7 linked regions of the Homo sapiens genome follow. The protein of the gene in region 1 purifies or fractionates together with the protein of each later gene. This does not show direct contact. Each region holds a gene or a part of one and is shown on either strand. Other genes may lie near its edges.

The links.
Region 2: the proteins of MATN2 (region 1) and SGF29 purify together in Homo sapiens (co-immunoprecipitation; 2 studies listed by BioGRID and IntAct, with this or other methods). This does not show direct contact.
Region 3: the proteins of MATN2 (region 1) and CP purify together in Homo sapiens (affinity purification with mass spectrometry; one large-scale study listed by BioGRID and IntAct). This does not show direct contact.
Region 4: the proteins of MATN2 (region 1) and CMAS purify together in Homo sapiens (affinity purification with mass spectrometry, with the first as the bait; one large-scale study listed by BioGRID). This does not show direct contact.
Region 5: the proteins of MATN2 (region 1) and POC1A purify together in Homo sapiens (affinity purification with mass spectrometry; one large-scale study listed by BioGRID and IntAct). This does not show direct contact.
Region 6: the proteins of MATN2 (region 1) and KLHL26 purify together in Homo sapiens (affinity purification with mass spectrometry; one large-scale study listed by BioGRID and IntAct). This does not show direct contact.
Region 7: the proteins of MATN2 (region 1) and ITIH4 purify together in Homo sapiens (affinity purification with mass spectrometry; one large-scale study listed by BioGRID and IntAct). This does not show direct contact.

Annotation. Positions count from the first base shown.
Region 1 is NC_000008.11:97,872,064-97,875,563, reverse strand, and holds part of MATN2 (matrilin-2 isoform a precursor), read right to left. Parts: intron 1-3,500.
Region 2 is NC_000016.10:28,556,920-28,560,419, forward strand, and holds part of SGF29 (SAGA-associated factor 29), read left to right. Parts: intron 1-3,500. UniProt on the Homo sapiens protein: Chromatin reader component of some histone acetyltransferase (HAT) SAGA-type complexes like the TFTC-HAT, ATAC or STAGA complexes.
Region 3 is NC_000003.12:149,208,330-149,211,829, reverse strand, and holds part of CP (ceruloplasmin precursor), read left to right. Parts: intron 1-1,450; coding exon 1,451-1,663; intron 1,664-2,445; coding exon 2,446-2,619; intron 2,620-3,500. UniProt on the Homo sapiens protein: Multifunctional blue, copper-binding (6-7 atoms per molecule) glycoprotein. It has ferroxidase activity oxidizing Fe(2+) to Fe(3+) without releasing radical oxygen species. It is involved in iron transport across the cell membrane.
Region 4 is NC_000012.12:22,052,718-22,056,217, reverse strand, and holds part of CMAS (N-acylneuraminate cytidylyltransferase), read right to left. Parts: intron 1,070-3,500; coding exon 927-1,069; intron 764-926; coding exon 608-763; intron 1-607. UniProt on the Homo sapiens protein: Catalyzes the activation of N-acetylneuraminic acid (NeuNAc) to cytidine 5'-monophosphate N-acetylneuraminic acid (CMP-NeuNAc), a substrate required for the addition of sialic acid.
Region 5 is NC_000003.12:52,078,075-52,081,423, reverse strand, and holds part of POC1A (POC1 centriolar protein homolog A), read left to right. Parts: intron 1-3,349.
Region 6 is NC_000019.10:18,643,528-18,647,027, reverse strand, and holds part of KLHL26 (kelch-like protein 26), read right to left. Parts: intron 2,391-3,500; exon of another isoform or gene 2,362-2,390; intron 1-2,361. UniProt on the Homo sapiens protein: May play a role in endo(sarco)plasmic reticulum (ER/SR) mitochondrial signaling. May be part of the ubiquitin-proteasome system (UPS) and affect ubiquitination and degradation of target substrates in cardiomyocytes.
Region 7 is NC_000003.12:52,820,673-52,824,172, forward strand, and holds part of ITIH4 (inter-alpha-trypsin inhibitor heavy chain H4 isoform 1 precursor), read right to left. Parts: exon of another isoform or gene 3,440-3,500; intron 3,333-3,439; coding exon 3,151-3,332; intron 3,070-3,150; coding exon 2,884-3,069; intron 459-2,883; coding exon 319-458; intron 114-318; coding exon 1-113. UniProt on the Homo sapiens protein: Type II acute-phase protein (APP) involved in inflammatory responses to trauma. May also play a role in liver development or regeneration.

The sequences.
Region 1 (3,500 bases):
TTATTTGGGGTCCAAAGGGGGCTATGGGTGCAGATCTTGGGGGCAGTTACATGACAGTGGAGAGTGCTCACTTGTAAAACTCCATTGAGATTTCCCTCATGATTTGTGCACCTTTTTATATGTTCCTCTGATTTAAAAGAAAAAAATTAACTTAACAAATAAAGTGTGCAGTTCCAGGCTCTATTGCCCTCAGATCCTTCCACCAACAGAGGGACTGAGAGACCTGAGAGCTGCGGGAGAAATTTTGAAGAGTTTAACAGGTGTTCTCTCTTGAGTGGGCCATTGTGCACATTCTGGAAGGGGGTGGTTATTAAGAATGAGGCAGCCCAGGCGGACACTATTTGGAACTCCTTCTCAGGTCCTGTGGCAGGCAGAATAATTGCCCTCCAAAGATGTCTACATCATAATTCCCAGAAGCTGGGAATATGTGATGTTAGATGGCAAAGGGAATTAAGGTTGCTAATCAGATGACCTTAAAAAAGGGGAGATGATCCTGGATTATCTAGGTGGGCCAATGTAATCACGAGCGTCCTCAAAAGTAGAAGAGGGGCCAGGGGCGGTGGCTTGTGCCTGTAATCCCAGCATTTTGGGAGGTCGAGGCGGACAGATCACAAGGTCAAAAGTTCGAGACCAGCCTGACTAACATGGTGAAACCCCATCTCTACTAAAAATAGAAAAATTAGCCAGGCATGGTGGCTCGCGCCTGTAATCCCAGCTGCTCAGGAGGCTGAGGCAGGAGAATCGCTTGAACCCAGGAGCCAGAGGTTGCAGTAAGCTGAGATCACACCACTGCACTCCAGCCTGGGCAACAGAGCAAGACTCTGTCTCAAAAAAAAAAAAGTAGAAGAGGTCAGGGCATGGTGGCTCATGCCTGTAATCCCAGCACTTTGGGAAACCAAGGCAGGAGGATTGCTTGAGCCCAGGAGTCGAAGATCAGCCGGGCAAGATAGAGAGACCCTGTCTCTACAAAAAATTAAAATTAAAAAAAAATTTAGCCAGACATGGTGGCACAATCCTTGTAGTCCCAGCTACTTGGGAGCCTAAATAAGAGGGTCACTTAAACCCGGGAGACTGAGGTTTCAGTGAGCCGTGATCGCACCACTGCATGATAGCCCGGGCGACAGAGCAAAACCTTGTCTCAAACAAAAAAAAAAAAAGAAGAAGAAGAAGAAGAGGAAGGCAGAAGAGAGATCTGAGGTGTGGCAGTGAGAGAAGGATGCAGCCTGACATTGCTGGCTTTGAAGATGGAAGCAAACCGAGCAATGCGTGCAGCCTCTGGAAGTTGGAAAAGGCAGGGGAACAAATTCTCCCTGCTGACACCTGGATTTTTAGCCCCATGAGAACCATTTCAGAATTGTGGCCTCCAGAACTGTAAGATAATAAATCTGTGTTTTAAGTCACTAAGTTTGTGCTAACTTGTTACAGCAGCAATAGGAAACTAGTACAGACACCGTCTGGGAATCTCAGGGAGGTCAAACGTCACTAGAGTGATTTGCTTCACAGAGATCTTGCTCTGGACATGAGGGCATTTTTTCTATTTCACTAGAAATGGAAGAGGAGAAGCAGCTAGAAAAGTCAACAAATGCTGTTGATGGGGCAACAGTGACTGTTCTAAGGGCCAAAGTTGAGGGTTACTGGCCAGGCGTGGTGCCTCACGCCTATAATCTCAGTACTTTGAGAGGCTGAGGCAAGAGGATCACTTGAACTCAGGAGTTCGAGACCAGCCTGGACAACATGGCGAGACCCTGTCTCTGTAAAAAAAAAGTTTTTACAAAAATCTAAAAAAGAAACAAATTTGAGGGTTACTCAAGGGGAGGGAGAAAGCCCAAAAAGGACAGGAAGGAGCCATTTCTGAACTGAGTTTCAAGAAGCATTTGATCCATAGCCTTGACCCCTCTGGTCTTGAGCTTTTGGTCTTTAAGACATGTGAAAACAGCCAAGCATGGTGGCTCACACCTGTAAACTCAGCACTTTGGGAGGCTGAGTCAGGTGGATCATGAGGTCAAGAGTTTGAGACCAGCCTGGCCAACATGGTGAAACCCTGTCTCTACTAAACATACAAAAATTAGCAGGGCATGGTGTTGCAACTTGGGAGGCTGAGGTAGGAGGATCACCTGAACCTGGGAGGCAGAGGTTGCAGTGAGCAGAGATTGTGCCACTGCACTCTAGCCTGGGCAACACAGAGAAACTGTCTGGGAAAAAAAAAAAAAAGAAAAAAAGAGATGTGAAAACAAACTCACCTAACTGGGAGGGTACAGGGAGAAGCCCTAAACAGAAGTGAGCTAAAACTCTTTGATTTAGATCATTTTCTCTAATACTCTAATATTTCTTTCTTTTTTCTAAATAGTTTTTCTTACCATCATGCCCAATCTAATACTCTAATATTTCTGGCAGATAGAATAATATGTCAAAGATGTCTATGGCCTAATCCCCAGACTGTGTTGCCTTACATGGCAAAAGGGACTTTGGGCCGGGTGCGGTTGGCTCACGCATGTGATCCCAGGACTTTGGGAGGACAAAGTGGGCAGATCACCTAAGGTTAGGAGTTCGAAACCAGCGTGGCCAACACGGTGAAACCCCATCTCTACTAAAAATATAAAAAATTAGCCAGGTGTGGTAGCTCATGGCTGTAATCCCATCTATTTGGGAGGCTGAAGCAGGAGAACACTTGAACCTGGGAGGCGGAGGCTGCAGTGAGCCAAGATCACGCCACTGCACTCTAGCGTGGGCGATAGAACGAGACTCTGTCTTGAAAAAAAAAAACGGGGGGACTTTGGAGATGTGATTAACTTAGGAATTATGAGATGCAGTGATTAGCCCAGATTTTCTAGGTATGGTTTTGTAAGAGGGAGACACGAGAGTCAGGATGGGGAGAAGGGTTGGAAGATGCTGTTACTGGCTTTGAGGATGGAAGAAGGAACCAAGAGCCAAGAAATGCAGTCAGGTTTTAGAAGTCAGAAAATGAAAGACATTTTCCCAAGAGCCTACAAAAGGAACCACAGAGCCCTGCTGACACCTTGATTTTAGCTCTACAAAACCCATTTAAGAGTTCTGAACTTCAGAACTGCAAGATAACATCTTAGGGTTGTTTTAAGCCACTATGTTTGTGAAATTTGTTATAGCAGCAATAGGCAACTAATACAACAACATAAAATAACTACAGGGTATCCCCATGGGCAGTGAGCCCCACTTTCCATAAGTAGATAAAGGTTCCTCTGACAGTACTTTTAGAATAACTTTCCAAAAATGTTAGCTGATCCACCTGCTCAGCCGCTGATTTTTACATGCAGGTATTTTGTGAAATTTTCCATTTCAATTGACTCACTTTGAGTACTTTACACCCTTCACACACTGTTGGATAAATTCACATTAATTATTTCATTTAACCCTTACAACAACCCTATGACATAGTATCACGCCCATTTGACAGATGATATAAACCAAGGCTCAGACAATAATAGTAAGTATAGCTAACAAATATTGAGCATTTATTCTGAGCT
Region 2 (3,500 bases), on another chromosome or scaffold:
TTACGGTCATGAGCCACTGCACCCAGTTTGCAGATTCTCATTGCTAGTGACTGGGTTGAGAGTGTGGGATGTGAGTGTGGGGTATTAGGTTCCTCTTTCCCTTTGACCCAGAACAAAGCTCTTACTGTTTTAAGCCCTGTGGGATTAATCTTAGAGTGGCTTAAGTGTAGGATATTTGGATTTGTTTATTTGAGGCCTTTTATGCTATTATAGTAAAAGGGCCAGCAATTTTAGGCTGGGTATTAGTGGTTAACATATGCTTCTACCCTGCAGCCTTTGTCCCTCAGAATTGGCTATCTCTTCAGACCGTGCTTAATGAAAGTTCTTATTAGTCAAGCTACTCAGTTGCAGATAACAAAAAGCTACTCTGACTAGCCTAAGCTGAAAGGGGTGTTTGTTGACTCTGTGATATTGTAAAATATATATCTGGTTTGTATCCCAGTTTGGAGCTTCCTGGAGGGTGGCGTGCCCAGGGTGGGTATGGAAGCTCTTCGCTCCTTCCCACATGCTTTGCCCTGTGCACCTCTTCCTTCATCTGTATCCATTGTGACATCCTTTATAATAAGCCAGTAAACCTAAGTGTTTCCCTGAGTGCTGAGAGCTGCTCCTGCAAATTAATGGAACCCAAGGAGGGAGTCATGGAAACCCTGATTTATAGTCAGTTGGTCAGAAGCACAAATAAAGCAACTGGGGGCTTGTGACTGGCATTGAGAATTGGGGGGACATGCTCGTGGGACTGAGCCCTCAACCTGTGGGGTTTGACACTCTGTCTGGGTGGATAGTGTTGGAAATAAACTGAATTAGAGGACATCCAGCGTGTATCCACTGCAGACTCAATGGATTGATTGGTGTTGGGGAGAAATCTCCACACATTTGGCCACGGAAATCTTATGTGTTGATTATCCTATATTGTGACAGCAGAGGAGAAAGTTTTGTTTTTTCCTCACAGACTGTAGCTGAAGAGTCCTGGAGTAAATCAGTTTCAGATGGGACTCTATCCAGAAGCCTAAATTATGTCACCAGTATTTTCTGTTTTTCTTTCTCTGTTTTTTTTTTTTTTTTTTTTTTTTTTCAGAGACGGGGTCTTGCTGTGTTTCCCAGGCTGGTCTTGAACTCCAGGCCTCAAGAGATCCTCCTGCCTCAGCCTCCTGAAAGCTGGGACTACAGGAGTCCACCACCACACCTGGGTACTTTTTTTTTTTTTTGAAACGGAGTCTCGCTGTGTCGCCAGGCTGGAGTGCAGTGGTGCAGTCTCGACTCACTGCGACCTCCACCTCCCGGGTTCAAGTGATTCTCCTGCCTCAGCCTCCCAAGTAGCTGGGACTACAGGCATGCACCACCATGCCCAGCTAATTTTTTTTTTTTTTTGTATTTTTAGTAGAGATGGGGTTTCACCATGTTGGCCAGGCTGGTCTTGACCTCTTGACCTCATGATCCACCCGCCTTGGCCTTCCAAAGTGCTGGGATTACAGGTGTGAGCCACCACGCCTGGCTGCACACCTGGGTACTTTTTATTTTTGGTAGAGATAGAGCCTCGCTATGTTGACAAGTCTGGTCTCAAACTCCTGGGCTCAAGCAATCCTCTGTACTTGGCCTCCCAAGGTGTTGGGATTACAGGCATGAGCCACTGCGACCCGCCTGTTTATTGGTTTTGTTAAATGCCTTGTCATGAGGCATTAAAAAGCCCATGATGGAAAGAAGATAGCCCCAGAGAAGGGATTCCAAATTCTTCACAAATTCTTCAACAGATGAGTGGATTAAAAACGACATCTATCCATAGAATGGAATGTTATTTAACCATAAAAAGGAATGAAGTTACTGATACATGCTGTGACATTGATGACCTTTGGAAACATGCTAAGTGAAAGAAGCAAGTCACATAAGGTCACAGTACAATTCTATTTATATGAAATGTCTAGAATAGGCAAATCTACAAATATGAATTAGAATAATGGCTGCCAGTGACTGAGAGGAGAAGGGGGTGGGGAATGACTGCTAATGAGTATAAGGTTTTAAGGAGAGTTGGTGAAAATGTTCTAAAATTAGATAGTGGTGATATTTGCACAACCTTGTGACTAACATAACACTGAATTGCACACTTTAAAAAAGTGAATTGGGGTGGGTGCGGTGGCTCACATTTTTAATCCCAGCACATTTTGGGAGGCTGAAGCAGGAAGATTGCTTGAGCCCAGTAGTTTGAGACCAGCCTGAGCAATATGATGAGACCTCATCTCAACAGAAAATTATAAAATTAGCTGGGCGTGGTGGTGCACACCTGTAGTCCCAGCCACTTGGGAGGCTGGGGCAGGAGGATTGACTGAGCCAAAGAAGTCAAGGCTGCAGTGAGCTGTAATTACACCACTTCACTCCAGCCTGGGCAATGAGAGTGAGACCCTGTCTCAAATAAGTAGATAGAGAGATAGAGAATTGTATGGCATGCGAATTATCTTCATTAAGCTGTTTTTGTTGTTGTTGTTGTTTTGAGACGGAATCTCACTCTGTCACCCAGACTGGAGTGCAGTGGTGCGATTTTGGCTCACTTTAACCTCCGCCTCCCGGATTCAAGCGATTCTTGTGCCTCAGCTTCTCAAGTAGCTGGGATTACAGGTGTGTGCCACCACACCCAGCTAATCTTTGTACTTTTTTAGTAGAGACAGTGTTGGCCAGGCTGGTCTCGAATTCCTGGCCTCAAGTGATCTGCCCACCTTGGCCTCCAAAAGTGCTGGGATTACAGGTGTGAGCCACCGCACCCGGCCCATTAAGCTGTTATTTTAAAAAGTCTGCCTAAACCTCTGAACTAGACAAACATGGGGCATATTCCAAGCAACTTAGCCAAGTTTAAAAGATCAGTACAGATTTCAGCTGATGCTTGCCTCAGGGAAGCTAGATTTGGAGTTTGAGTTCAGCTGTGATTAACTGCATGTTAACAGAAACAAAACACCAAACTCTCAAGAACATAACAGAATCCAGAGTCTACAACACATCATCTACAATGTCCAGGATATAATCCAAAATTCTTAGACACAAGAAATGGCCTGGGCATGGTGTCTTATGCCTGTAAACCCAGCACAGCACTTTGGGAGGCTGAGGCAGGCAGATCACTTGAGGACAGGAGTTTGAGACCAGCCTGGCCAACATAGCAGAACCCCTTCTCTACTAAAAGTACAAAAAAATTAGCTAGGCGTGGTGGTACACAGGAGGCTCAGGAGGCTAAGGCACAAGAATTGTTTGAACCCAGGAAGTGGAGGTTGAGCTGAGATCGTGCCACCACTCCAGCCTGGGCAACAGAGCAAGACTCTGACTCAAAAAAAAAAACCACGAAAATTTTAAAATATATTTTTACAAAACAGGAAAATATGATCTGTGTTCACAAAAAAAGGCAATGAATGGGCCCGGCACAGTGGCTCACGCCTGTAATCCCAGCACTTTGGGAGGCTGAGGTGGGTGGATCACGAGGTCAGGAGTTCGAGACCAGCCTGACCAACATGGTGAAACCCCAT
Region 3 (3,500 bases), on another chromosome or scaffold:
ACAAAGTGCATCAGAGCCTAGAAGAGGCAAAATCCAGAGGGAAGAGAAAGAAGGACTCAAGATGTGGATTGCCTTATCTTTGAAGTTCCTACATGTAAACATACTGTGCTGTTGTTACCTCCCATCCTAACTTTATATAAACTCTGCCCCAGCTAAGGTGGCATAAGTAGTCTCATGTCAGTCAAATGGTACATATGCCTGGATGACTGTAGTCACATATGAGACACAATTAACTGAAAAAGTCATTTGAATGTAGGACTTGGAAGCCTTGAAAATAGTACCTGAAAAACAAAGATAAGGTTTGGTGCCTGTGATCTCATTCTTAGTCCTTAACAATGATGGTAAAAAAGGTGGTATTTTGTAGTGATGAAAAGCAAGGGCTTTGAAATTAATAGACAAAGGTCTGAGCCCCAGCCTTGCCTTTCACTGTTTGAGTGACCTTGGACAAATTACTTAAGTTCTTTCAGCTTCAGTTTCCTCATCTATAAAATAGAGATAATAAGAATACATAGTAATACCTCAATAACTATCAGCTGCTATCATAAGCAAAAATGCTGAAGTCATGCTACAGTTCATTGAAATTATAATGATCGAATAGGGAAATTAATTTAAAATTAGATTTGATTCATTATTAGTTGTCTTATTAAAAGAGATATTGGTTTAGAAAGTGAATGTGTTGACTTTTTTTGTTTTTGTTGTTGTTTAGGGATAAATTACATTCATAGCATAAAAGGCTGACTGCCATCCTATTTCTTTTTAATGATTTCATGGCTTACTAGGGAATTACCATTCATTTTAAAGGTATGGTAATGGAACTGTGGTTTTGTTAGAAGAAAAAAAGGGTTCCTATCTTTTAGAGATACATACTCAAGTATTTATGAATGGAATATGATGTCTGAGACGTGCTTTAAAATAATTTGATGATACTGGGGATAAGAGTGTGTGGGGGTACAGATGAAACAAGGTTGGCCTTGAGTCGATCATTGTTAAAGCTGGTTTGATGGGTACACAGAGGTTCAGCATTTTCTTCTCTCAACCTTTGTGTGTGTTTGGAAATTTCCAAAATTGAGAGTAGAAATGTTTTTAATTTTATGGTTACTTCGTGGGCAAAAATCTGAGATCATATAAGAAGTTTTGAATTTAGAAGAGGGTAGCCTTTTTGCTCAGACTCCCATACCATGACCCGAGTTCTTTACATTGCAAACAAAAAGTCATTATGCTCTCTGAAAACCCAATCAAATATAAAAAAATAATAAAAATGTCTGTGAAGCTTCTACACACCCTAGCCATTAGCCTTTCATTTTCCTGTGTCCAAATAGGATAACACATCCCCAAGGATCACATAGTAGATGTTTAATAAATGTTTGCTGAATGAATTAATGGACTATCTATTCTCTCATTTAAGTTCAAACACATTCACTTTGCACCTTCATTGCATGTTGCTTCCTAGGGGCCATCTACCCTGATAACACCACAGATTTTCAAAGAGCAGATGACAAAGTATATCCAGGAGAGCAGTATACATACATGTTGCTTGCCACTGAAGAACAAAGTCCTGGGGAAGGAGATGGCAATTGTGTGACTAGGATTTACCATTCCCACATTGATGCTCCAAAAGATATTGCCTCAGGACTCATCGGACCTTTAATAATCTGTAAAAAAGGTACATCTTCTCCTTATTGCACATGCTATATGACCAAAAGACAGGGGCAGGGCAGTTTGTCTTTTAAAAAGAAATCAAGTCTTCTGTGCTGAGATTGAGCAGGTAAGGTAGAGAGGTGGTAAGTAGAAAAAAAGGAAGGGAAGAGCCAGGCAGGACTAGGAGAAGAAGGGATAAATAGAACAAGCATTCCTACGGGGAAAATGCCAATGAAGGTAATGTGAAAGAAATATATTCTCTCAGGGTTCAGTTTGCTGTATCTAACTTCCAACAGTGGTGCTGAAGAGACATATGACTTTACCAAATGTGACTACCAAAAGGGCACTCCACGGTGATAGATCTGTAGTTACTCATACTATATTGGTAAACATAATATCATAGTATTTATTTCTAACATCATGAAAAAGACAACGGAGCTCAAGAGCCTGAAATACAATTCTAACTTGAACAATCGTTACCTGTAAAGACTTGTCTCTGTTTGTGGCTATATGCACCAGAAAATAGACGCACAACTTTGAATTCCAATCTTCCCATTTGCCAAAAAGCATTTAATAGTTATGTGGTCAGTGGACATCCAGACACAGGAGTGTCTTCCAAGCACCAGATACTGATCATAAAAATTCCCTGAGTGTTTCTGTCTGTAAAACAGGAGTGACTGGTCCAGACTTGTGATTTATTCGAAAAAATAAATACTAACATTTTTAAAAACTATAAATCACCTGAAAACATAAATCAAAATACATGCTAAAAGTTTAGTCTTGCTAAAATAGTAACTTTAACTCCAGATTCTCTAGATAAAGAAAAAGAAAAACATATTGACCGAGAATTTGTGGTGATGTTTTCTGTGGTGGATGAAAATTTCAGCTGGTACCTAGAAGACAACATTAAAACCTACTGCTCAGAACCAGAGAAAGTTGACAAAGACAACGAAGACTTCCAGGAGAGTAACAGAATGTATTGTAAGATTACAGCAGACATGTTAACTTTACTTTTTTTTCCCTTGATCCATTAATTCTGCTAAGCTTATTCCCTCACATAAATAAGTACTGTGTGTCTAGTCTGTGGTCCTTATAACAAAGCATATTGGATGTGCAATTTGATATTCAGCTAAGTAAGTCAGAATAAAAACTCTAAGCCAGGTAAAGCCAGATACACCAAACTTGTTCCCCAACTGGTAAGGATAAAGCATCAATTATGGTTTAATGCATATGTATGTGACATTAATATATTTATTTATCCACTAGACTCATTCTAAAAATTATTTGAGGCAGCTCCAAATTATTAAACTAAATGCTTAAAACCATATTATATTTTAAAGCATCTAACTATATTTAAGAAAATAGTTCAAACCACGAGTTCTGAAAGGTATTCGTTTTACATACTATGTTGCCCTCACTGGGCCCCTTAGTCTGCATCATTCGTTTCTACATTTCAGTTCACTTTACTTTTCTAGAAATGCTTTTTTTACAGTTTAGACTTTTTCTTAATTCTCAGACACAAAATAATGAGCTTAGTAAGATTATCTATTTCTCATAATTTGCATGAGAAACAGAGTCCCTTAACAACAACTAGACCAATAAGTAGATATTTTCGTTTATTTGTTTGTGTTTAACTTCTTCAAAATAACCTGTACTCAGAAACCGAGAGCACAAAAATAACGATACTACCAAAGTAGAAAAATAAACTAGTTAACAAAGTACAGATTTTGTTTCCAACTTTTACTTATATCTGGGTGGAAGGTCCTCTTTCCATACTTTAATCCTGTCTCTGTTGTGTACTAACAAAAATAGTTGTTATAAAAAGATACTCAAAATTCTAGCCTGAGCAGGTTTGATTTGGT
Region 4 (3,500 bases), on another chromosome or scaffold:
ATGACCTTTTTTTAAAATGGATAAAAAAATGGAAAATTTCAACAGAAAATGGAATCCCTACGAAACAACTAAAATGTACATTACTGAATGGAAAAACACAGTGTTTATAATAATTCTCTGGATAAGATTTATAGCACACTGGACATGGCAGGCAAAATGCCTAGTAAACCCTAGGGAACCCTTCTTATATATGGAGTTAGGAATTTGGGGAAGAACTTCAAAATGTCATTCTTGAAATCCTTCAGAACACTTTGGTGGATGCTTTCTATCTCTATATGACTTGTATGGAGTTCATCAAACATGTCTAGAACAAACATAAAAGTATTTGATCTAGAAAAACAGCATATCTGCCTCAAAAGGCAAACAGAAATAAGAGGATTAGAATGTCCCTTTGTAAAGAGTAAAGCAAAGAATTAATTTGGTCTAGCTGTGTTGGCTCGATAACAGATTTACAGCTGATTGTAAATGTCATTACCTACTAAAGTAATGAGTCAAATACTCTCTTTTACAGCTCCCCTTTTACTCTCCTCATGCCTAAAGGATATTTATATACAAAAAAATTGATTCTCAATAAAATCAGCTAAAATAAAGACTGAAAAGAGATTACCTCCTTTCTGAATTTCACTCCATCGAAACTGATGGCGTCTCACAACAGAGAAAACAGAATCATATCCTTCTTCTCGAATCATTTCTGCAACTTTTTGAAGATCAGTAGGATGTAAACATGGAGAAGTAGCTTGAATATTTCCTACAATGTCAACCTCTTAAAAAGACAAGAGAAATGAAAAGGATATTTAAAAAAAAAGTTCCTTGCAAGCAAGTAATATTAAGGTTTGGAATTCAAATGTTAAAACAAGTCTTATAAGATAATAAAGGAAGTAGAAAAGTACATAAAGGTTTGAATAAACTATTAATCAAATTCATACCATTATGATAATTAAGAAATTCTATGATGGCATCTAGTGAGGTAGAGCTGTCTTTTGAAACTTCAGAACTTCTTCGATGAACTTGTGCACCAAATTGTTTGGCCACATTCTCAATTTCATCATGGTCTGTCGAAACCCATACACTGTTCAGATATCAAAAGAAATTAACAGCCAAATCAAAAGAAATCATTAACAATAAAATGGAGCTCTGTAACCATAAAATACAGCTTATATAATGTGAGAATATTTTTTGCACAATGATAATAATGTTACAGATCCAAAGGAGTATAAAATGTAAGAAATTATAAAGTATTTTGTATATAAATATATTAATGAATAAAAATGCAGTCCTAGATATGCTTTATATAAAGAAAGGAACAACAGACACTGGGGCCTACTTGAGGGTAGAGGGTGGGAGGAGGGTGAGGATCAAAAAACTACCTATCAGGTACTATGCTTACTACCTGAATGACGAAATAATCTGTACACCGAACCCCTGCAACATGCAACTTACCTCTGTAACAAGCCTGATGTACCCCTGAACCTAAAATAAACGTTTTTAAAAAGGCACTAGAAGTCAAATCTAAAGAAAATTAAAGATCTTGCTTATTCTCCATCCAAATCCAAAATATTGTATAAAATATTTTAATATGCTTGCTAAAAAAAAAAAAATGGACTTGGCTTAGCCAAACCCTAAAGGTGAAACAGTTTCAAGCTTAGAAGATAATAAATGCCCAAGTCTGGGCTCAAAAAAAATCAGATGAAACAACTCTTTCTTTTTTAAACAACAAACAATGGGTATATAGATGTAGAATCAGCTGGGTTATAGCCATTGATAACAACAAACATGAAGAACATGACTTCATTAGCTCAAAAGAATTTAACTTAATACTCTATTAACCGCAGGTTACACAGTTGCCTATTTAGCCTTTACAAAATGATGAGTAGGCAAAATGCTGTTTTGGAGAGGGGTACCAGTTTCTATTGAAGTTTTGTTTCCTGGACAGTCACAAATTCCCACTGCTAAATGCAGAAGATGTAAATACTACTCTAGCCACAATGTTTGGTCAGGCCTGGAGTCTCACACCTGTAATCCCAACACTTTGGGAAGCCGAGGCGGGTGGATCACCTGAGGTCACGAGATGGAGACCAGCCTGGCCAACACGGTGAAACCCGGACTCTACTAAACATACAAAAATTAGCTGGGCATGGTGATGCACACCTGTAATCCCAGCTACTAGGGAGGCTGAGACAGGAGGATCGCTTGAACCTGGGAGGCAGAGGTTGCAGTGAGCCGAGATCGCGCCACTGCACTCCAGCCTGAGAGACACAGCGAGACCCTGTCTCAAAAAAAAAGACAAAAAACAACAACAAAACCCTGCCATGTTTTTTTGTTTTGTTTTGTTTTGTTTTGAGACGGAGTCTCGCTGTGTCTCCCAGGTTGGAGTGCAGTGGCGCGATCTCGGCTCACTGCAAGCTCCGCCTCCCAGGTTCATGCCATTCTCCTGCCTCAGCCTCCCAAGTAGCTGGGACTACAGGCGCCCGCCAACACGCCCGGCTAATTTTTTGTATTTTTAGTAGAAACGGGGTTTCACCGTGTTAGCCAAGATGGTCTCGATCTCCTGACCTCGTGATCCGCCCGTCTCGGCCTCCCAAAGTGCTAGGATTACAGGCGTGAGCCACCGTGCCCGGCCCCCACCATGTTTTAATAGTGATTTATGCAAAGATATCTTAATGACTTATAGTCTTTGGTGTATGTGTGTGTATATATATATATATATTTGGTGTGTATATATATATATACACACACAAACATATATACACATTATTTTATATACATACAAAATTATATATAACGTGTATATATAATGTGTATATATAATGTGTATATGTGTGTGTGTATATGTATACATATACACACACACATATATATTTTTCCTTTTATCCCACTCTTTCGATATCTACTGAGGGAAAGATGAACTGCATGTTTTGTTTGTTTTTTTGACAGAGTCTTGCTCTGTCACCCAGGCTGGAGTACAGTGGCCCATTATCTGCTCACTGCAACCTCCACCTCCCAGGTTCAAGCGATTCTCATGCCTTAGGCTCCTGAGTAGCTGGGATTAGATTACAGGCATGTGTCACCACGCCCGACCAATTTTTAGTAAAGATGGGGTTTTGCCATGTTGGCCAGGATGGTCTCAAACTCCTGACCTCAAGTGACCCTCCCACCTCAGCCTCCCAAAATGCTAGGATTACAGGTGTAAGCCACCACGCTCGGCTGAACTGCATGTTTGTCTATGCTCAATTATCATGAGTGGAAAGAAAGTGAAAAACTAAAGAAAATCTTCTAACATCCCTGGATTTCATTTATTTATTTCGTTTATTCCCTTTAATATTTATAGAGGGATTTAAATCAAGGGATAAAGTCAGTAAGAAAAAATAATCAAAGAAAGCCTAGCAAACAAGATGAGCCACTGGCTAGGGGTCAAGAATCCCGTGATATCTACTTATGTCACTCTATGCAGGGCGAACGCAGGAGCCCCCATTTTCCTCCATCTTGAAATCTGAAATAGT
Region 5 (3,349 bases), on another chromosome or scaffold:
CGAGTCTGCGTATTATCATCCTGGGCCAGGCACAGGCCAGCGTTGGGGAGGTGCTTTGTGAGAGTTTGAGTAAGGGAAGAGCGAGGGCAAGGGTCAGCAAATTTAAACAGTAAAGATTTTAGGCTTTGTGGACCATACAGCCTCTGTCAACCTGTCGCTGGACCCAGAAGGCAGCCAGAGACCATACGGAAGCCAGCAGGCGTGTCCATAAAACCTTATTTACACAAAGGGGCAGCCGGCCGTAGTTTGCTAACCCTTGGTCTAGAGAAACAACAGAATACATTCGATGGCAAACAAGTGATTTTAAGGCCAAGGCTTTCTTGAGAAGGGCCATGGCTTCCAGGAAATTGCTGGTAACAGAGTAGGAAAAGGGTTCAGAAATGAGCCCCCAGGTGAACCTCGGCAGATGTGACTTTGAAGATAAAACTTCTGGAGCCCTGCTGACCACACCCCATGAGGCTTCCTGACACTGGCCATGAGGGCCTTGACTTGGGAGGCGGACAGTATCGGGTGAGGAGTGACAGTGCCCAGGCCATAGGGTCCTCAATCCGGCTTCCTGTCACTCCGATTTAGGGAGAGAGAGGTACCTTGTTTAAAGTTGAACCTTGTCTTCAGGGGATGGGCCACCCAGCAGTGACCCAGGCGAGTTCCACAGCATGTTTTGGGGCTGATCACTTAATGCTGCAGTGGCACAAGTGCCAGTGAAAGAAGCGTTGACAGTGAAGTGATTGGGGCAGCTTCTCGTGGTGCATCCAGGAGGAGGTTCTTGTCACTATGTCCTTTCGGTTCCTATAATATTGAGTTTTCATGGCTCACATGAATTATCCTTATGACCTTTGTAATAATTCCAAACCTAAATGTTTAGCCAGGTAAGAGACTGCTTTTCAGGGGGAGGTGACACATGAGGCCTGACAATGTGAGGGGGTGGGTGACCCTGGGGGCTGTCCATTCCCACTGTGGCTGAGGTAGGAGTTTCTGCTCATTTAATTCAGAGCAGCTAGGCCAGGCAGCCTAAACCAGGACAGCAGGTGCTGCTGCTGGGTGAGGACAGGGATCCCCTAGTCTTTCCTCAGGCTGCCTGAGTTTGGGCATCAGGGCTGGAAGTGGGATGGGACACCAGCAGGCCTCTCCTTTGGCATTCTTGATGGGGACAGAGCCAAGATGCACACTACCCAGTGCTTTAGTGTGCTCACTGCAGCCAGGCCACCTAGGCTCACAGCCTAGGCTTGTCACTGATAAGCTGTGTAACTTTAGGCAAGTTACTTAATCTCACTGTGCCTCAGTTTCTTCATCTGTAAAATGGGGATGATAAAAGCTCCCACGCTGAAGGTTTGTTGAAGTTTTTGGCACACACGAGCGTCCCGTGAAAGTCAGCTGCCAAGAGAAGCCCACAGAGCAGAGGGTCAATGATCAGGGTGAACCGCCCTGAGCCCAGTCCCAGGACCTCCTGCTGGTCCCCCTCATGTTTAAGCTCCACACCCCAATTACATGGAGGACTTAAGAATGTTCCCAGGGTAGCACCAGGTCCAAGGAAAGGGAATGAGCTGCCTGGTTTCTCCAAGGTCAGCAGACAGAAGGGGCCGCACTGTGGAAGAGTTGGACCCCAGCAAGAGGGAGTTCTGGGAGATGGGCCATCTTTCCTGGCCACTTTGCCCAGGCTGCCCCTCTAGCAGCCAGAGCCCTGGACTCCTCAACCCCTTCGTCAGTTTCCCTTTACCCTGCCCCAAAGCCAGAAGCCATGGACGCTTGTGTCAGGCAAAGCAGTTTCCCTTGTTGACACCTGGCACCTGACACAGCCTGTACCTCTTTGGGGACCTTCTGAGGGGCTAGGACCAGACCTCTGGCCCCTGCTCCCCTGTACAGAGCACAGGGTGAGAGGCAGTGTGATCAAGGAACTGTTTGGAAGGTCAGCGCTCATTTTTCCTTGAATAAATGAAAGTCGTGGCTTCCAGGCCATGGAGTGTGGACCCGGGGAGGCCGCAGAGGTATTTGCCTGCAGAGCGCTCCTCCTCACCCTCCAGGGCAGGTGTGGCCTTGTCTCCAGCCTGGTGAGGACAGGCGCTGGTAGCAGGATAATTCCCGGGCTGGACGGAGCATGAGGCGACGAGAGCAGCCTGCTTGGCTGGGCCCCGCTGGGAGTTGGGCCACTAGGCAGCAGGTGGAAATGGCAGTGGCCTGTGTACACCGAGGTAGCATGTATTTTCTGAACCCTCGTATGGGTATGTGGGGATGTGCTTACTTTTTGTTGTGAACCGACAGGTAAAGATCATATACATTCTGAACAAGGCCACGTGATATGGCTCCAAACCAGTCTGTGCCAGGGGTACTCCCCACACACCCCTTCTGCCACCTCAGATGCTCTCCTGCCCTCCTCCCACAGCTCCCGTGCAGCTGGGGAAGCACGGTGGCACTGTGATGGCCTGTCCTGGCTGCTCTGGGCCTGTGGCCCAGACAGACTCCCTGCAGGTGGCCTGCCAGCCCTCCTGCCTGTGTGTGCCACCAGCCCTGAGTGTGTCTCCACTTTGCCACTTGGATGCCCAGTGGGGCATTTCCATCATGGGGGAACCCCTTCCTTCCCCTTGTAGAGGGAAGGCACACCAGCAGCATTTCAGATTTCCATGTTTCAGCCGGGCGCAGGGGCTCACGCCTGTAATCCCAACATTTTGGGAGGCTGAGCCGGGCGGATCACGAGGTCAGGAGATCGAGACCACGGTGAAACCCCGTCTATACTAAAAATACAAAAATATTAGCTGGGCGCAGTGGCGGGTGCCTGTAGTCCCAGCTACTCGGGAGGCTGAGGCAGGAGAATGGCATGAACCCGGGAGGCGGAGCTTGTCGTGAGCCGAGATCGCGCCACTGCACTTCAGCCGGGTCGACAGAACGAGACTCAGTCTTAAAAAAAAAAAAAAAAAAAAAAAAAGAGATTTCCATGTTTCACTGTCTATGAGGAGTCACCATTTTCTGTGAAAATGAGGTCCTATGCTTTATTAAGAAAATTTGATTTTTAAGAAAAATATAAAAATTTTTAAGAAAGTAGGATTTTTTTTTTTTAACTACATGGAGCAAAGAGTGCCAGACAGCATTCTAATGTACAGAAATCCAAAAAGCATCCTGCTCTCCCAGGCCTTCTCCTGGCTCAGAGTGGGGGCAGCTGGGATCACGTGTGCTGGGAAGGGCCTGGTTGGACTTCTTTCTCCCTGATGGTGGCCACCACGAGGCACCTTGGCAGAGAAGGAACAGGGGAAGCTGAGACCAAACACAGAGATGACACAGCTCCTCTGAAGCTAGGCTGGAGGGGGAGAAACTGCCTTGAGGGGTGTTGGGCCTCATAAAAGCCTGTTTGTCTACT
Region 6 (3,500 bases), on another chromosome or scaffold:
TCTTGGGCTGGCCCAGTTCCACCTGCCCCCATCCCTGCTGAGACGCGCCACCCCCCGCCGCCCCTGCCCCCGCCCTGCCGAGCTCCTGCTCCCAGGCCTACTCCTGGCGGAACCTGCCCTCTCCAGCTCACGCTGGACGTGCTCTACTCTCTCGCTGCCCCTGCTGCTGTCCCTCTTACGGCCCAAGTCATGGCACTACTGTCTTCCCAATGGCTCAAGTTCACCCTCTCCTTTCCCTGCCTGACACACGCACGCCACATCAAGGCTTGCTGGCATTGACGATCCCCTCAAGGCCCATGCGGGCATGGCGGGCAGAAGGATGGCAGTGTCCCCATCATGGGCGTCAGCACTGCCACAGTAACACTGATGAGGTACATGTGACCTCTCCCCACTCGTTTCCTCCCAGACACCCCCCACCTGGTGGGCCTGGAGCCCCATTTCCCAGATGAGGAATCTGTCACAGCCACAACCCATAAAGAGGGAGCCACAGTCACCCATGGGTATGATGAGACACCTCATGCCGCCATATCTGACCACATTTTCCAGGAGAAGGACTTGAGTCCACGTCTTGGAAGGGTCAAAATCCTCCTTCTGAAAGGGGCATGAGGCCGGGCGCACTGGCTCATGCCTGTAATCCCAGCACTTTGGGAGGCCAAGGCAGGTGGATCACCTGAGGTCAGGAGTTCGAGACCAGCCTGGCCAACATGATGAAACCCCATCTCTCCTAAAAATACAAAAACTAGCCAGGCATGGTAGTGGGCGCCTGTAGTCCCAGCTACTTGGGAGGCTGAGGCAGGAGAATCACTTGAACCCAGAAGGCGGAGGTTGCAGTGAGCCAAAATCATGCCACTGCACTCCAGCCTGAGCTCAGAGTGACGTCAAAAAAAATTAATAATAATAAAAAAGAAAGGGGCAAGAGGCCAAAGGAATGAGAACTTCCCCAAAGTAGCAAGAACCTCCTTGGGAAGCCACCTCTTCCCCTAAGTCTTCCTAGCAGGAGCTGGGGGGCTGGACCCTTCCAAGGCCTCTGGGCTTGGTGGAGATGATCTAGATTGTGGAGAAAGCTTCAACAGGCAAAGGCCACCCAGCCAGACTGACTGTGACAAACCCACCGGGCGCAGCGTCTCGGCCACAACTTTCCATGCAAACACTTTCAGCAGGCAGCAAAGCCCCTGGGCACAACGTCCCAGCCATCACTTCTTTTTTTTTTTTTTTTGATACAGAGTCTCACTCTGTCGCTCAGGCTGGAGTGCAGTGGCAGGATCTCGGCTCATTGCAACCTCCTCCTCCCAGGTTCAAGCGATTCTCCTGCCTCAACCTCCAGAGTTGCTGGGATTAAAGACGCCCACCACCACACCTGACTAATTTTTGTATTTTTAGTAGAGAGGGGGTTTCACTATGTTGGCCAGGCTGGTCTCAAACTCTGGACCTTGTAATCTGCCTGCCTTGGGCTCCCAAAGTGCTGGGATTACAGGAGTGAGCCAAAGCACCCAGCCTAGCCACCACTTCTTATGCAAATGCCTGAAGCTGGCACATCCCTCACCCAGATCCCCCCACCTCACCCCCAGGAACAGCATGACTCAGTGAGCCTGGGCCCTACCCAGGCGTCTCCAGGGAGCGTGGGCCAAAAAGCGTGGATGCCAAAGGCCCATGTCGGAGAGGCTGCAAGGCCAGAAGGTTCCTCCAAAACTCTGCCGGTCAGGTACCTCACAGTGACAGAATTTTAGCTGGGGAGGTGCGACTCCCCAGAGGGTTTGCCTCCCCTTGCGACACCCCAAGTGGCCCAAGCCTCCTTTCCCTCCAAGGAGTCTAGACCCCGCGGCCCGAGCTGGGAGGAGGCCAGCTGGTGAACAAGTGTCCTTTGTGCTTGCAGCAAGGACCCCACCTCCTCTCCGCACACCCCAGCCAGGGCAGCCCCACTCTGTCCATCCCTGAGGTTCGGCTCAGTCATTAATGACCACCTCTACTAGGCAACGGGTTTTTTGTTGATCCCTCGAGATAGGAAGGAAGGAGAATAAGCTTTTCTCTTTCTTTTTTCCCCCTCGGTTGCAGAAGACAGAAGTTGGAACAAACAAGTTATATAACGTTGGGGGCGGTCGGGGGTGGGGGAGCGCAGTCCCTCCTGGGGACAGTTTCTTGAGTTGTGGTACCGCTGGAAGGGCCAGGGGGAAGACAGGAACTGCCCCCGCCCCTGGCCAAAAGACAAAACCTTCGTGGGACAAAAAGGCAGATGCGGGCGTTGCCTGGCAGGCTAGAAAGGCAGCTAGAGACTAAGGCCAGCCCCCACTGCCCCCCAGCAGCCCCACAAGCCTCACTGGAAAGGCAAAAGATCGACCTGATCCCATAGAAGGGAATTCCTACCTGCCAGACTGCAAGCCTCAGAGAGCAATAAGCTTTTGCACACCCCCATCCCTCCCTTCCTCCCTCTCAGCCACGTCTCTGGGACACTTCCTCCTTCTGTGTCATTCATGTTCCAGGCACACAAGAGGGCACAAGAGAGACAGGCTTTCCAACCTCAAGGCACCAGAGAAACACAACAAATAACGTTAGGTGGTGACCAGCATGATCAAGAATATACAACAAGCATGCGCCCCAGCAATTCTGCTCCTAGATGTGTACCCCAAAGGACTGAACATGAGTGTTTAGACAAAAATGTGTACACTCATGTTCATAGCAGCATGATTCATAATAGCCAAAAGGTGGAACCAATCTAAGTGTCCATCAACAGATGAATGGATGATGTGGTGCATCCACACAGTGGAATATTACTCAGCCATAAAAAGGAATGAAGTGCTGATTTAGGCTACAACATGCATGACCCCCAAAGCATCATGCTGAGTGAAAGAAGCCAGACTCAAAAGGCCACATAGTGCATGATTCTACCTATAAAACTTGAAAACGGATAGAGACAGACTGCAGATTGGTGATTGTCAGGGGCTGGGCAATGGAGAATAGGGGGTTAGTGCTAATGAAGATGGGGTCACCTTTTGCGGGGACAAAGATGTTTTGGAACTGGACAGCAGTGATGGTTGCACAATTCTGTGAATGTACTAAATGCCACTGAATTGTTCACTTAAAGTGGGTGAATTTTGTGTTACATATATAGTACCTCAAAAACAAAAAACAAAAATACAGGTTGGGCATAGTGGTTCATGCTTGTAATCCCAGCACTTCGGGAGGCTATGGCAGGAAGATCACTTGAGCCCAGGAGTTCAAGACCAGCCTGGGCAACATAATCAGACCCCATCTTGGCCGGACACAGTGGCTCATGCCTGTAATCGCAGCACTTTAGGAGGCCAAGGTGGGCGGATAACCTGAGGTCAGGAGTTCGAGACCAGCCTGACCAAGATGGAGAAACCGCATCTCTACTAAAAATACAAAATTAGCCAGGCATGGTGGCACATGTCTGTAATCTCAGCTACTCGGGAGGCTGAGGCAGGAGAATCGCTTGAACCCAGGAGGCGGATGTTTTGGTGAACCGAGATCATGCCATTGCACTA
Region 7 (3,500 bases), on another chromosome or scaffold:
CATCGGGTTTGGTGACTACCATAGATGTGAGAGGCGTGACAAAGCTGTAGGCAAGTGATAAATTCAGCGCTTGGTTCCGGAGGGCCTGCTGATCAGCATCGGATGCGGAGACACTGTAGGTGGAGCACATCAGAGCTCAGGAGATCCTTGAATTCGGGAACAGATTTTCCATCCAGCCCCTTCTGGGGAGGTCCCTCTGGGAGAATCTGGAGCTTGGACATGATGCCAAGACCCCCCTCTCTCCATGCTTAGGCGCTGTACCGTGCCACCTGTGCCTGCCCCCTAGCGACAGGCTTAGGGAGGTGCTGATGCACTCACGTTTGCTCCAGCAGCTGCTGGATAGTCAGGTATGCCCAGAGCCTCTCCATGAAGTTGTGGAAGATATACTTGGGGCTCTGGAACTCCGCCTCCTGCTCTGCCACACTGGACTCCGTTTGGAAAGTGATGTTCTGTGTAGGCTGGAAAGAGGGGCCCAGCCAGGGCAGGAGCAGTGAGGGCCGGACATCTGCATCTGCCTGGCACTTCTGAGCTCTTCCATGATTGGGGCTGGGGCAGGTCCCACACACTGACTGTGGGGACTGCATTTCCTTTGAGTGGGGGTAAGGAGGGGGCTTAGGGGTGCAAGGGGCTCAGTCACAGAGCATACAGGGATGAGAAGGAGGTGAAAAGGTAGCAAAGTAGCCCAGATACAATAAGGCAGGCACAGCGCCAGGACTCAGATCAGCCAAACCTCTGGAAGAAAGGGATGGGAACCCCAGGCCAGTGTAGAAACAGCAGCAGGAAGGATTTGCAAGTGCAGTGTGGAGCAGGAAGGGTCTAGCTACAGCCTGCCCTTACCCCCAAAGCTGAGGGAAAGGGACAGAGAGGGAAGGACCTTCCCAGGGGTCAGAGGCAGAGTTGAGAACACAACTCAGATGTCATGGCTCCGGGTTTGGGGCCCCATCCACCCCAACGGCTGTCCCTGTCCAAGCTGGCCCCTCTGCGGCTGGCCACCGTGGGACAATGACAGGGAAGCATGCACCCAAGCTCTGTGTGAACCTGCTCCCTCCTCCCTCAGGGAGGGGCCTGTGGTCTCAGACTGACCTAGCTCGCTGCCTGGGAAATGGGCTCCTAGGGCAGAGGAATCCCAGGCCTCTCCCACCAGAGCTCCCTGAGTGGCCAAGAGACCTTTTCACAGTGCGGATCAGATCTGCGGTCTGCTCCCACTGGAGCAGCCTGTCTCTCGCCCAGAGCCTGGCTGGCTTTCCAAAGCTTTGGCACACATAGGCTACCTGCATGAATTTTGCCCCATCCACACATACAGCTATTTAATTGATATTTTTCCTTAAATGAACTTTAAGTAAGCTAACAATTTTTACTTGGCTTTATGTCCATAAAATCTTAGATCTGGGCCAGGTGCGGTGGCTCACGCCTGTAATCCCAGCACTTTGGGAGGCCAAGGTGGGCAGATCACGAGGTCAGGAGACCGAGACCATCCTGGCTAACAAGGTGAAACTCCCTTTCTACTAAAAATACAAAAAATTAGCCGGGTGTGGTGGTGGATGCTGGTAGTCCCAGCTACTTGGGAGGCTGAGGCAGGAGAATGGTGTGAACCTGGGAGGTGGAGCTTGCAATGAGCCGAGATCCAACCACTGCACTCCAGCCTGGGAGACAGAGCGAGACTCCATCTCAAAAAATAAAAAAAAAAATCTTAGGTCTGAAGTTCAGGTCATATTTTTCAGAATACACATTAAAATAAGTAAATAACCACTAAAACAAGCCATGTCTGTCTGTGAACTCCCCTGAGTCACCTTGGGTTCTGTACTTTGGGAACCCACGGCCTCCAAGCTAAATCACCTGCTGACATGTATGGAGTGCTTATCACTGGACATCAATCACAGTGACTTTATGAGGGGGGCATGCGACTTATTCCCATGTTTACATAGGAGGAAACTGCAGTAGATGGAGGTTAAGTGACTTCTCCATGTCTCCTATCTGGGAGGTGGCAGAGCTGGGTTTGAAGCCAGGCAGGGTGGCCACGCAGACCGTACCAACAGTCATGACACTTGGGGACTTGTCCTGAAACAAGGCCATGGGCCCCCAACGCCCACTCCTATTCTCTTCACACACGCTGCCCTCATGCCACAGGGGCCTAACATATTCCTCCATTGCCCCATCTGGACTCTTCCCACCTCCTACTTATCCTTTTGTCTCTGCTGGGCCTCCTCCAGGAAGCCCTCCCTGATCCCCAGGCCAGGCTGGGGCTCCTGGTGCTGCTCTCCTGAGTCCAGGGTTAGATCCCAGCCTGTAGCTGGTTTGTGTGGTGATATGTCCTTGGGTTGTCTCTCCCATGAGGGCACGGAGGGGTCAGCCTCATTCACTGCTGCATCCCAGGGCCTGAAGAAGGCCCTGCCGCAGAGCTTGTGCTCAGTTTCTCTTTGTGGAAATGACAGGGGGTCCCTGGAAGGAGGCAGGGAAGGCTGGGCAAGGACAGGGTGCCACGTGGCAAGCTGGGCTCTTGGCCTGGTTGCAGTGGGGCCCGGGGAAAGCTGCCTGCCCTGCCTGGAGCTCAGTCTGCTCATTTGTGAAATAGGAGCAGCCCTCCCTGTCTGACTGCAACCTGAGAGGGTTGTGGTACCAGGACAGGAAGGGATGACAACTAGGGAGGAATCCCTGCCCTCACCTGTGCTTGCAGGTGCACAGACCGGCTGCCGAGAGCCTGTATGTGCTGGTCTCATGAGAATCACTCCATTGTCTCATTGAATCCCTGCCATGCCCCTGTGTCATCCACAGGCAGCAGAGGGGAAAGCTGGAGCTGGGCAGGTCTGGGATTTGAGTCCAGCCCCTCTGGCTGCAGAGGTGGAGGCTGCCATTCCCCTCCAGGGTGGCTTTGGCCACACTCACCAGCTTCCCACTGACTGTGGCTGTGAGCACATCAGGCCCCCGGTCCTGGAGCTTCCCAGCCACCACCATCTCTGAGCCCTTGAAGAGGAGCCGGAAGTTGTTCTGAGTGACCTCCTCCACGGCATTGCTTGGGTACTCGAAGGTCACTGCTGTCAGCAGTGGGTTGGCCACTTCCTGGTAGAAGTCCTGCAGGGTTGGGGGTGTCATAAAGGCTGGGCTTTATGACTGCCCACTTCTCTGTGCAGCCCACCTGGGGCACACTGGCACCTGGAGCTGCAGGGCAGAGTCTGAGTCCTCATGGATGCGCCGGGCCAGGCCGCCATTGTCCAGTGCCAGCTTCTCCAGGAAGGCATAGCTGACGTCGAAACCGAAGCCCAGGCAGAAGAGGCTGTACCGGCCACTTACAGCTTCCCGCACGTTATTCTGGATGCTCCTGGGGTTAGTCTCCCCTGGACCCAGGGGTTTGGGATGAGGGTGAGAAAATAGTGATTTGCTTGAAGAATATTTCTGGAACCTCAGAGCCGAGGGGCCTCAGTGACCCCCTCTCCCTGCCCAGATCCCACAGCAAGCCCAGGTGCAGCCCCAGCCGCCTCCCCTGTGCAGCACGTCCTGGAGTC